Regions from separate parts of the Homo sapiens genome. Here all the other regions are linked to region 1. The links come from fine-mapping of genetic effects on gene expression. A gene starts in region 1. Each other region holds a variant in brackets. All regions are shown on one strand. Distances are between the middles of the regions.

What was found. PIP is the estimated chance that this variant, and not a neighbour inherited with it, causes the effect.
Region 2: its variant is the best candidate, but not a certain one, in a credible set for the expression of WSCD1 in aorta (GTEx, PIP 0.74).
Region 3: its variant is the best candidate, but not a certain one, in a credible set for the expression of WSCD1 in stomach (GTEx, PIP 0.59).

Annotation. Positions count from the first base shown.
Region 1 is chr17:6,068,291-6,072,516 of GRCh38, forward strand. It overlaps WSCD1 (WSC domain containing 1), which reads left to right and starts at 2,089. Exons shown (of 9, transcript NM_015253.2): 1 at 2,089-2,362. RefSeq lists an enhancer at 1,325-2,156.
Region 2 is chr17:6,001,135-6,005,360 of GRCh38, forward strand. No RefSeq gene overlaps it. Among named protein-coding and RNA genes, the nearest start is that of WSCD1, 67 kb to the right of the region's middle. The variant T/C (reference allele first, on the strand shown) is at 2,164.
Region 3 is chr17:6,045,588-6,049,813 of GRCh38, forward strand. No RefSeq gene overlaps it. Among named protein-coding and RNA genes, the nearest start is that of WSCD1, 23 kb to the right of the region's middle. The variant G/A (reference allele first, on the strand shown) is at 2,181.

The DNA of each region.
Region 1 (4,226 bases):
CAGATGGACACTTCTGAATAGCAGCTGCCGGGAAATGTCTGGCTTCCCAGAGGAGCTGGGCTTGAATTCCCCTGGGCTCAACTGGCTGTGAGCCTTTTGTGATCACCCACCTGAAAGCCTCATCTGTCAAATGGGCACATGAAGGCATCTATAGACTTATCAGTTTTAAGTGGGACAATGGGTACGAGAGGGCCAGGGCTGGCTTCATGGGTATGAGATCTGTGAAAGGCTCTGAATTCTGTGCTCAGAAGGGACCCGTACTGGTTTAATATCCTCCTTTTATCTCTCGAAATTCTTGATAGTGTTTTAAAAGGGGGCTCCATTTTTATTTTAGGCCCTTCAAATTATGTAGCTGGTCATGGAGAGGGCTTTGCAAACCAAACAGCATTGCGAGACTGCACAGTGGGTTGCTGTTATAAATCGTAACGACACACACATTCACATTCTGTAAAGGATATATATGTGAAGGGGGCTTTTCTGCAAGGTTGGGACTCTGAGGCAGCACAGAATTCGTCTCTCACTTACTGTATCCTCTTCCTGGGCTTAAGGATATTAAATCCAGGTGCCCCAAGACCTTCAGAGCATTCTGCCTTCATGCGGATGGTGCAGACTCTGTTCTAATTCTGCACTTGGCCAGACATAGCTATGCAAACTGCAGCGAGTCTCTTCCCGCTCTGGGCGCCACCTGACTGACCCGCGTAAGGAGGGACTGTGACTGGTCCCCAGGCAAACGCTTTCCCTGCCACCTGCACCTGTTGCAAGCCAGCTCCTCGGAGCCAGGCCAAGCAGCTCTGCCCCTAGCGGGAGTCGGAGGCATGAAACTCCCTTTTAGGAAGACGGAGTAAGAGGCACCACCACCTGCTCCTGCTGCCTCTGCTGTCCTCAGCTTCTGGGAGCATCTTAGCAGCCAGCTCCGGGTGAGGACAGGGTCCACCGGTGCACATGGCAGAGCAGGGCAGATGCTGTGACTTGGCGGCTTTGGGGGAACAGGGTGGGGCTCCTCCCTGGGAAAAATCTTTAGGTTTGGATCCAGCCTTTATTTAAAGAGGGGGATTGTGTATAGACTTGTGTGACTGTTCAGCCTCTTTCCACCTCGGTGCGTGTGTGTGTGTGTGTGTGTGTGTGTGTGTGTGTGTGTGAGAGAGAGAGAGAGAGAGAGAGCCTGTGGGTCAATGCCCAGTATGCCCCTCTGAGAGTGTGTCTGTTAGTAGACACCAGTGTGTGACATTGCTTCTGTGGGCAACTATGTCAAGGCGTGGGTTTGTCACTGTGTGCGGTGTGGAGCAGTATGATAAGCCGGCGGCCGACCCCCGAGTGTGTAGACGCGGGAGCTGGTGTCAGGGTATTTGTAGGGCTGCAATTCTGTGTAGGTCTGTCTCAGATTGTGTGAGAGTGTCTGTGTTCCAGCAGGTGCTTGTTTCTGAGTGTGAATGTGTGTGAAGCTGTGACCGTCTGTCTCTAGCTCTGCATGGGACGGTGATCCGGTGTGTGTGTGTGTGTGTGTGTGTGTGCGTGCGTGTGTGGTGTGTGTGTGTATTAGAGTGCACTCTAAACTGTGTGGCTGTGTGTGTACGTGTGCGTGCCTGTCACAGTGGCCCAGTCTGCTTCTGGGTGAGTGGGGCAGAGCCCAGAGAGTGTGTGTGTGAGTGTGGGTGTCGGTGTCTCTGGGAAGCAGTGATTCGGGATGTGTGTGTCAGGCAGTGTGCGGCTGTCGCTGTGAGTCTGCATGGGAGAGTGGCGGCGTGCTCTCCTCTGCGCGGCAGTGCCCCGTGTGTTTGTGGGTCTGTGTCTGGGTGTGAGCGTCATGGTGCGTGTGTTAGAGCCCGTGGGGCCCCGGTGAAAGGCTGTGGCTCTGGGTGACTGGTGTGTGTGTGTGTGTGTGTGTGTATCAGAGTGGGTGGCGGCGTCTCTGCTCGGCAGTGGCGCGTGTGGCCCGCCCCGCGCGCGTGTTCTCGCGGGCCGGGGCAGGGCGTGGGCCCCCTCCGGCGGAGCCGCGACCCCTCCCCCGGGCGGCGGGAGGTGCGCACCGGCGCCTCTAGGACCCGGCGGCGGCCGGCCGCTGTCCCCGGGCCGCGCGAGTGAGCATGTGCAGAGCCCGGCGCCCGCTCGCCCGCCCGCTGCCCGCCCCGGCTCCGCGCCCGCCCGCCCGCCCCGCCGTTCAGCCCGGACGCCAGCAGCCCCGGGGAGCCAGGCGGCGGCGCCCTGTGCCCGGGCGCGTGGGTCCGCTTGCCGCGGGCGGCCGGAGACGTGCGGGCGCCGGGGCTTCTGGGCTCCGGGCACTGCGGGGGGCTGCGGGCTCGGCGCCCGGGGAAGGCGGGCCATGGGCGCGGGTGCGGGCGCCCCAGCCGGCCGCGATCGCGGGGTGAGTCCTGTCTCTCGGCGCTCCAGCCGGACCCCCGCGCGGGCTGCGAGCAGGGTGTTCCCCTTGCCGCGGGCAAACAAGTTTGTGCAGACGCGGTTGGGAGCGCGGCGGGGCTGCACCTGCTCCGGCTGCAGGGCGGGCTTGCCGGGGGCACCTTCCCGGGGGCCCGGGGCGGCTCGGCCGGGGCAGGGGAGAGTGAGCGGGTGCGTGCAGGGGTTGTGGGGGGGCGGGGGCGGCGCTCGGCGCGGCCGGGATGGGGTGGGGGTGCGCGAGGCGCCGCACGAGCCGCGTCCCCCTCCGGAGTCCTGAGAGCCCGTCCGTCACCCGGGAGGGCGCTGCGGTTGGTCCCGGGGAGGGGGCGAGGGCAGGGTGTGGGGTGCGCACAGCTTCCCTCCTAGGCGGCGACGTTTACCCAGAAGCAGCTCCCTCTCGTTCCGCTACCAAGAGAGGCTTCCGGTCAGCGGAGGGTTTGCTCCGTCTCTTGGTGAACTTGAACAGAGGCAGAGGCAAAAGCAAAACGTATGTATTTTGTCCAGAAAATTACCTAGTGTAGAGCTTTGCGTCTTCGTAGGTGTGGACGGAGACTCACGACTGAAGGTTGCTAAATTGCGTTTTTCTTGGCTACTCAGGAGCGTACGTACCTGGCTGGGTCCCCTGCCTCCGGGTAACCTCGCTGGTGGTTTTCCTGAGCATTTGTGCGCCTGGGATGATGCCTGCTCTGCTGATCGGGAATGCGGGTGGGGAAGGGGACCGCTCTTCCTTCCGCTGAGCAGTGGGAAGGCTCATATAGGAGTTCTAGCCTCATAGCCCTGCACTGGGATCCAGCTGCTCCCCACACTGGCCCTGCCCCTGCAGCTCCCAAGATGGACAGATGCAGGACTCCGCTGTACTTTTCTAACATGAGATACCCGCATCCCTCTTGTTGCTGGAACAGCATGCTTAGGTTTATGGAGGCACTTGGTTTATCCCACTTTGGCATCAGGAGTGGGGGCCTTTCTTTTTTCCTCTGATTTGCCTAGGTTGTCAGGCACAGAAAGTGAGGGTGGTGGGGAGTGAAAGTTACAGGAGATATAAAGCTGGCTTGCCCTGCGCTGTTTGCAATCACCCACTCCTGGTGGCTGCAGGTGCTGGGGAGAGAGCTAGGGGAGGTTTCCTTGGGCTATGGGAGAATGAGGTTTGTCTCTCTCAATCATGCCCCCACCCCCACACACTTAGATTGGCCCTCAGGAGATCCTCCGGGAAGGGGCCTCAACCGGCTGCCAGAGCTCAGGGTTTCTAGGAGGAAGAGCAGGAGCTCTCCCAGGCATGGGATCTGAAGGAGGCTTGGCGGTGGTTGGGCTGGTGGCTGAGCCTGACTGCCTCATCTTCTCCGCCAGAAGGCTCTCACCTGTGGCTGCATCCTCCAGGCCTCAGCAGGGCCATTTCCACAGCTCCTCTGTAAAAATGCCTTCTTCTGGGGTGAGGGGATCCCTCTCTTCAGTGGGCATTGTGCCCTATGGGGTACTGCCCTGTGGCCTGTGGCATGTCTGGTTGGAAGTGAAGAGAAGCTGGGATAAGGCAGAAGGCCAGACTCCTGTCTCTTCCTCCTGTCTTCCTAACCGAGCAGAAGTGGATATTCAGTGCCACTAGTGGGTCTGCTGCTGAAGCTTGAGCCTCCAACCTGATCAGTTTGGCCAGAGCACTGGGGAATGAGTCACAGAGCTGGTTCCTTATGGCATCAGCCTGAGCAGGCGACTCAGAGCCTCTGAATCCAGAGCCTCCAGGCCCTGATGGAACCCCTCCGAGCAGGGCCTCTAGGGAAGTGGTGTTTCTCATTATAGAAGCTCCAAGCTTGTACTCCCATCCAGCTCAGACCCCCATCAGC
Region 2 (4,226 bases), 67 kb before region 1:
GAAACTGCCTTAATAAAAAGTTTATCACTTCCAGACTTAAAATGTTGGACTCTGACCCTTTTCTTTTCTTGCTATGAGCTTCTTCTTTTTTTTTTTTTTTTTTTTTTTTAGACGGAGTCTCGCTCTGTCACCCAGCAGGCTGGAGTGCAATGGTGCAATCTTGGCTCACTGCAACCTCTTCCTCCCAGGTTCAAGTGATTCTCCTGCCTCAGCCTCCCAAAGTGTTGGGATTACAGGCATGAGCCACCACACCCGACCGCTGTGAGCTTCTTTTAAAAGCAGAAAAGATTGTGGCCTCACATTTTAGGATGGAGTACAGTGGAGAAAATAGTAACTGAGGGGTATTTATGATTTCCTGAAAGGTCTCAGTTTTTTCTACAGAGCATGAAGATGGCCTGGTAATTCTCTCATGGCTCTTGGGATCTCAGTCACTCACTTGTCATGTAGTTTTGTCCTGTCCTCTCTGATTGTCCCATGGGTGCAGGGAGCAGCAGAGGGCTGTGGGTGGAGCATGGGGCTCGAGATCAGGAGACTCGGGTTAGAATCCCAGCTGGGCCAGAAAACCCTTAGGAGCCACGGGTTCCTGTTCCCATCCATCTTCTCCCATAGTGGCCATGAGGACCAATCCTGTGAACAAATGGGCACCAGCGTGCTCCTGTAACCTGGGATATGCTATTAAGAAGCATCCCAAGGCTGGGCATGGTGGCTCACGCCTGTAATCCCAGCACTTTGGGAGGCTGAGGCGGGTGGATCACCTGAGGTCGGGAGTTTGAGACCAGCTTGACCAACATAGAGAAACCCTGTCTCTACTAAAAATACACAAAATTAGCTGGGCGTGGTGGTGCATGCCTGTAATCCCAGCTACTCGGGAGGCTGAGGCAGGAGAATCGCTTGAACCTGGGAGGCGGAGGTTGCAGTGAGCCGAGATTGCGCCATTGCACTCCAGCCTGGGCAACAAGAGTGAAACTCCGTCTCAAACAAAACAAAACAAAACAAAACAAAGAAAGAGAAGCATCCCAGAGTGCCGGGCGTCTTTTTAGGGTGGGGAGGGGCAGACAGTCAGGAAGAGGCTGGTGCTCATAGACCGTGACCCTGGGCCTGCTTGCTCTTTGCCATTCCACATACACTTGGGTTTTTCATTTTCATGGGACTGGGCATTCAGGCCCCGTGTCTAGCCAAAGGCCTGAAGGGTGGTTGTCCTTGAAGTGGTAATTGCTTTAATGGCAAAGGGGTTTGCAGTGTACTTTGTAAAAGCCTCGGCCACAGGAGCGTGGAGGCTGCATGTGACACACACCATTCAGGCCTCTGGCTCTGCCATAAACCACTCCAGCTCCAGGAGTGTAGTAGCGGGGAGCAGGCAGGGGTGCCCAGTCCCAAATGCCATATCAAGATGCACACCTGGAGCTGAGCCCCGGCTGGGCTGCACTCACTGCGTGATCCTGAGTAGGTCACTTGTCTTCCAGGAACCCATCTTCTCATCTGTAAGTTAGCCCTCACATCAAAATCCCAAGAAGATACAAAGGCGGAAAAGTAATCATGAGTGTGAAAGTGTCTCGTAAGGTAGAAAACACTGTCCAGACTTAAGGAGTGGCTGTCAAGTCATTGCCTGACCCACGTAGGCCATTGCCAGGTCGTAGAGAGCACCTGTTGGATCGTCTTGGCCACAGTGGATGAGCCCCTGATTCAACCTGTACCGGTCATGGGGCTTCCCATGGTGTCCACTGCCCTGGTCAGTGTGCTTAGCTCAAGGTTGGGCACTAAAGGTAGGCTGTTTTCCTGGGAATTTGGAAGACATCCTATCCTTGCTCTGGCCATCTCTTTAAAAAAGCAGAATTCAACCCAGCAGTGAGAGAGACCTGTGTTCTGTCTTGGGGTCTGGGGAGCAGAGAAACCAGGCATCTGTGAGAGAGAAAAATTAGGACGGACAGAGAGGAGCACAGAGGAGGGGTGCAGGGAGAGTCCAGGGGGCTTCATTCCTCCTCCAGCTATTTATGTCTTCAGGCCCAGGTGCTTCCTACCTATGGGTTCTCCAGGTTATCCTTGTGTCCTCTCCTTGTATAAACTCCCTCTTTACTCAGGCTGCAGAGGGTCTTCGTTTATTTCAAGGAAAAGTCCTTCTAACTTCTACAGGGCCAAAGCATGCATGTATCATATTAATGTCAA[T/C]CCTGTGCCAGACCCTTTGTAAAATTAAGTACTTCAAACTTAAAATAATTCAAACTTAAGGCTGTTGGAACATTCCGTTATTCTGAGCCTTGAGAGGAATGTGGCTATGCAGTCTGAGTCATGCAGCAGGCAGCTGCAACTTCTGCCTTTTTGTTTGTTTGTTTTTGAGATGGAGTTTCACTCTTGTTGCCCAGGCTGGAGTGCAATGGCACAATCTCGGCTCACCGCAACCTCCGCCTCCTGGGTTCAAGTGATTCTCTTGCCTCCCAAGTAGCTGGGATTGCAGGCATATGCCACCACGCCCAGCTAATTTTGTATTTTTAGTAGAGATGGGGTTTCTCCATGTTGGTCAGGCTGGTCTCGAATTCCCAACCTCAGGTGATCCACCCGCCTTGGCCTCCCGAAGTGCTGGGATTACAGGTGTGAGCCACCATGTCCGACTTTTTCTTTTTCCTGTAAATAATTAAGACCAAATGGTGCCAGAGATGAAACCATCTCAGATAACTGCCCTTCCTCACGGAGTAATAGTCTTCCTTGGAACGTATTAATAGCAATCTGTAGCGAATCAAATTGCTGTAATGTGTGTACTGCTCTTGTATGGAAATTGCAGTAATTCTGCTAACATCTCTCTGACTCTGCCTATATCAGTAAAACCTTAACTTTTCCACTTTGGAACTCTGACTTCATTCGTTTGAAGTCAGTGTCTTCTGGGCAGCCATCTTCCAGCTTTGTGCTGAAATAAACTCCATACTTAATCATATTTTCTGAATCTCATTATTTAATGTTGACAGCTCTTAAGCGTCTTTAAACTTTTCCATGGATGTTAAATATACGTGCATTAAAGTATGTAAAGTGTATCTCAGGTACACAGCTGGTTAGATTTTGTGTACGCCCATGAAACCACTGGTCAGATCAAGACACAAACATTTTTAGCCTCCAGAAGGTACTTTTCTACCACTTTCTGATCAGTTACAAAATCTCTTCCTTGTTCAATTCCCACCTATGAGTGAGAACATGCAGAACACAGGGACACAGGAAGGGGAGCATCACACACCAGGGCCTGTTGTGGGATGGGGGGAGGGGGGAGGGATAGCATTAGGAGATTCACCTAATGTTAAATGACGAGTTACTGGGTGCAGCACACCAACATGGCACATGTATACATATGTAACTAACCTGCACTTTGTGCACATGTACCCTAAAACTTAAAGTATAATAAAAAAAAAGAAAATGAAATGAATTAAGTTTTAAAAACACAGTAGGCTTTCAATAAATGGTAGCTGTATTTCTTTGGTAGGAAAAAAAAAATCTCTTTCTTGAGGTAACCACTATTCTGACTTATCTAAACAGACATTTTGGGTATGGTTATACATTATCTCACTGGTTCTTTTATATTAAAAAAGCTAATTATAAAATGTTTCAAACATTCAGAAAAGCACAGAAGATAATATGATACCTATGAATCGAATTTCCAGATTTAATAGAATTAAATATTGTTCATATTTGCTTTTCTTTCTTGTCTTGCATATCATATGTCTAGGTGTGGATTTACTTTTTTTAAAAAGAAGTTTTGTTAGTTTCAGATTGAAGAAGTCTGAGGATTCATGTCTTTCATCCGTTATGGAACATTCCAACACATTCTCTCTTCTGTGTTTGTTTATTTTCCCTAACGTTTGTTGAGAACTATAGCACACATATAGAAAGGTCCACAAAAGAAAGAAGTATAGCTCCATATTTTATTGATAATGTATCACAAATTTATCACCCATGAAACTGCTTCCAGGTCGAGAAATAGAGCATTGCCAGCATTCCCAGAAACTGCCCCAAGCTCCTATCCCATCAAAATTAATCATCATTTTTTAATGGCAGTTATTCCCTGGATTTTCTTTATAATTTTACCACTGAAGGATGCATTGCTAATGCCAAGGTTTATTTTTTTCTGCTTGCACATGTCTTTGTTTTTGGTTTCCTGAGCAACTTTTTATCCAACGATCTGTCATTCTTTAAGATCAATTAACCCAGGATCATTAATATCTTTTTTTTTTAGTAAAACTTTCTTTCTG
Region 3 (4,226 bases), 23 kb before region 1:
CTGTGAGGTGCGTGAGTGCTAGGCCAAGGGATCTAGATTTTATCTTATGAGCAATGGGAAACATTGGGTATACTTAAAGAGAGAAATAACAGTCAGGGGGATATTACTGTTACAACAATTACTCTAGTAGCCAGTGTGTGGGGCTAATCGTGAGTGAGGAAACAGGAGGCCAGAAGGCAGGCCTTGGAGGAGGCCTGGCAGGGATGCAGATGTAACCTGTCTGAGCCAAGTGCTCCTTAGAGCCTCCTTGCCAACCCTCCTCCTGTTCCATCCTTCCCATTGTCCAAGAACCCTAGACCCTTGCTTGGCTCATTCTGATAGGGCTGGCTGGACTGTGCAGACTGTTGCTACTATCCCAGGGCCTTGAAGAAAACTAGCCAAGCCCAGTTGCATTTATGGCCACTCCTGAGCAATGCTCATGATGGTCTATAGGGTCTAACCCAGTGGTTCTCAACTAGGGGCAATTTCCCCTCTTCTCCTAAGGACATTTGGCCATGCCTGGAGATATTTTGGTTGTCACAACTGGGGGTGAGGTGCTACTGGCATCTAGTGGGTAAAGGCCAGAGATGCTGCTTAACATTCTACGTTCACGGGACAGCCTCCCTGAACAAAAATGTATCAGGCCCAAAATGTCAGCAGTGCCAATGTTGAGAAACTCTTTTCTAGATTAGCACTGTCCAGCGGAATTTATTGCAGTGATTGAAATGTCCTATCATTCTGCACCATCTAAGGTAACCACGAACCACATGCGGCAGTTGAGCCCTTGAAAGATGGCTAGTTGGGATTGAAGAACTCAAGTTTCAAGTGTATTTCATTTTAATTAATTTGATTTTTGTCTTAAGTAGCCACACGTGGCTGGCTAATGGCTACTGTATCAGGAGCATGCTGCATCAGATCTGCATGCTCAGCAGGCTGCCAGCAGTTCCTGAGGATAACGTCCTTAGTTTACACTCTCTGGCTCCCGCATTTTCCCCAGAGCACATCCTCTGGGAAGAGGGGCTACCAGCCAGAGCCACCTCTGGGCCAGACCAAAACCACAACCCAGACTTGGGGGTTGAGCACAGCTCAAGGTATGTTCTCCTGGGGCTTCCAGCAGACCTGAGTCAGGCCCATCTCAGACTGCATCGCTGAACCTCAGATGTGAGAAAGAAGCTTGGCTCTTGAGGCCTTTTTTTTCCCCCAACAGACCCCTACTTTGCCACATTTTCTCCCAGTCACCAGCTCTGGAATACTGGGAGGTGCAGCCATGATCAAACCTCAGAAAAGGTCCCTTGGTTCCTTTCTTCTGGGAGAGTGAGCTCCTTGGTGTCCCTTATTCCATTACTAAGGGGGCTCCTTTCAGAGACTTTTTCCAGGAAAGAAAAAAAAATCGGCTTCAAGATGACTTAATGTCCCTACATAGGCAGAGAAGACACTGACAAATTCAAACAGCCATGTCTCTGGCTTAAAAAAATTTAAGTTATGCCTAACAAGGCACAAACCTTAGACAGAGAAGAATATCAGATAAGGCTTGAATGCAAACTGTGGCAGTGGCATGGAGCAGATGTGCATACTGGATATGCATGAGTGATGGTGGAATGAATAAAGCATCATGAGGTTTAGAATATTCTTCTTCCCCTTTTAGAAATGAGGAAAGTAAAGCTCAGACAGGCTAAATGACTTCCCCAAAGTAACAGGACAAGTATATGGAAGAATCAAGATTTGAACCCAAGTTGATCAGGCTCCAAACCCCACACTCCTTTTTATTCTTTTTTTGAGATGGGGTCTTGCTCTGTCACCCAGGCTGAAGTGCAGTGGCCTGATCGCGACTCACTGCAACCTCTGCCTCCTGGGTTCAAGCGATTTACCTGCCTCAGCCTCCCAAGTAGATGGGATTACAGGTGTGCACCACCACGCCTGGCTAATTTTTGTATTTTTAGTAGAGATGGGGTTTCACCATGTTGGCCAGGCTGGTCTCAAACCCCTGACCTCAAGTGATCCATCCTCCTGGGCCTCCCAAAATGCTGGGATTACAGGTGTGAGCCACTGCACCTAGCCCAAACCCTACACTCTTAACCACGGAGGCACCTGTGGGAAGGTGTCTGCAAACTGAAAAGGCAGGGCTGTCCAAGAAATCTCCTGAAGTCACTTGCCCAGGGAAGGATCCCAGATTTTCTGGAGGCCTAGACAGGCTATGATCC[G/A]GGCCTACAGCATCCCTAAAACATCCAAAGAAGAGATGAACAGAGATGCTCTCCTGTTCTGCTTGGGAAGGCAGCCATGCCACTAATTGGCTTCAGGGATAAAGATGTGGTAGGGGGATGGCTGTTTACTTCACAGTGGGAAACATACATTTCAATTTGCTTGATCAAAATCCAGTCTGGTGCTCTGAGGAGACTGTGGGTTGGGGCGACTGGGGAGCTAGCAGGGACAGGCACTGGGCTGGGATGGCTGGGAAACGGCTCAGCTTCAAAGTGTTTGCAGAGATTCCTAATTAAAGAACAAGTCCACAAAGAAGGGAGTTGAGTCATGTTTAGGAATTGGAATGTGGACTGCTGCAAATCTCCATGTTGAAAATTAATCCCCTTTCTGGCTCTAAGACAATGTACTTTGGTATTTTCTTAGATGACTGTGGCTTTACCACTATTATCCAATGGGGCTCTCCAGAGTTAAAATGCATGTCCTGGAGCAAGGATGGCAAACACAGAACAAATATCTGCTAGCTACTACCCCGCACCTGTGACAGACATCACTAATCAATCAAAGCACACTTTCCCATGAAGGCTAAACAGAGCTTCAGAATTATTTTTAAGGCAGCACTTCAGACAGCCACTAACAATGGAACCAAATTGAAACATAAAACAAAATCTATTTGCAATGCCTGCCCTTGAAGTCAGGTATGGTCTTAGAGGACAGATAGATCTTGCTTAAAGTAAGTTCACTAGACCAAAGTTTCAAAAGTCATTGTGATGCTGTGTTGGGCCCAATAAAAGACTGGGCGAACCCATAGTCAGGAAACTAGCGAGACTCCAGTTCAGTCCGTCCTTTCAGTTACATCTTGTGTTTTCTCTTAGTTAAGTGATCAACCAAGCCTCTACTTGACCAGCTCAGTGATGCGGAACTCACGATCTTACAAGGAAGCCTATGACTTTTTTTGGTCAGCTCTGAACTATAGGCCATGAAGTCAGCTGGCCCTGGGTCCTGGCTTGTCCTGTTCTGTGACTCTGAGCAAGCCACATCATCTTTTGTCTATAAAGTGTGGGGAAGTCCTGCCTGGTTCAGGGAGGTGTGATGTATAACTGAATGTATGTTAAAAAAAAACTTGCAGAATGCAGGCCGGGTGTGGTGGCTCACACCTGTAATCCCAGCACTATGGGAGGCCGAGGCGGGTGGATCACAAGGACAGGAGATCGAGACCATCCTGGCTAACACGGTGAAATCCCGTCTCTACTGAAAATACAAAAAATTAGCCAGGCGTGGTGGTGGGCACCTGTAGTCCCAGCTACTCAGGAGACTGAGGCAGGAGAATGGCGTGAACCCGGAAGGCAGAGCTTGCAGTGAGCTGAGATTGCATCACTGCACTCCAGCCTGGGCCACAGAGCGAGACTCCATCTCAAAAAAAACAACAACAACAAAACAACTTGCAGAATGCTTCACATGTGGCTGGTGCACAAAGCGTACAGATCTTCATGTCTACATTGTGCCCAGATCTGCCTTACTGAAGCTTCCAACGCTGGTTCCTTGGGGACCCCAGAATATGTCTGCTTCCTCCTCCCCTTGACAGCCTGGCAGATGTTTAAAGACACATTTGAACACAGAGTGTCACACCTTTTCCGGTTCCTTCAACATTTACAGAAATCTTCTGTCTAATGCTCGCTGCCTCTGTACTTGCTCTTAGCATGTGCATCAAACTCTCAGGTTATCTCTGACCATACCTGGGCAGCAGGACTCTCACCTCCCTCCTTCTCTACACTAGACACCGATTCATTCATTCACTAATTCATTCACACGTTCGTTCACTTGATAAATACATCACCAAGTTCCTGCTAGGTCTCAGGCACTTCGCTAGGAACAAGGAATACAATGATGAACTCAATAATTGATACAACTCCCCTGCCCTTTGTTGCTGAATTCGGGCATTGTTCTGCAAATTCATAGATTCCAGAAATATTTAATTGTGTATGTTACCCTGCAAGAAGTTGTAGATGTAGCAGAAAATAAGGGTAATGTGGTTCCTGCTTTTTGTTCAT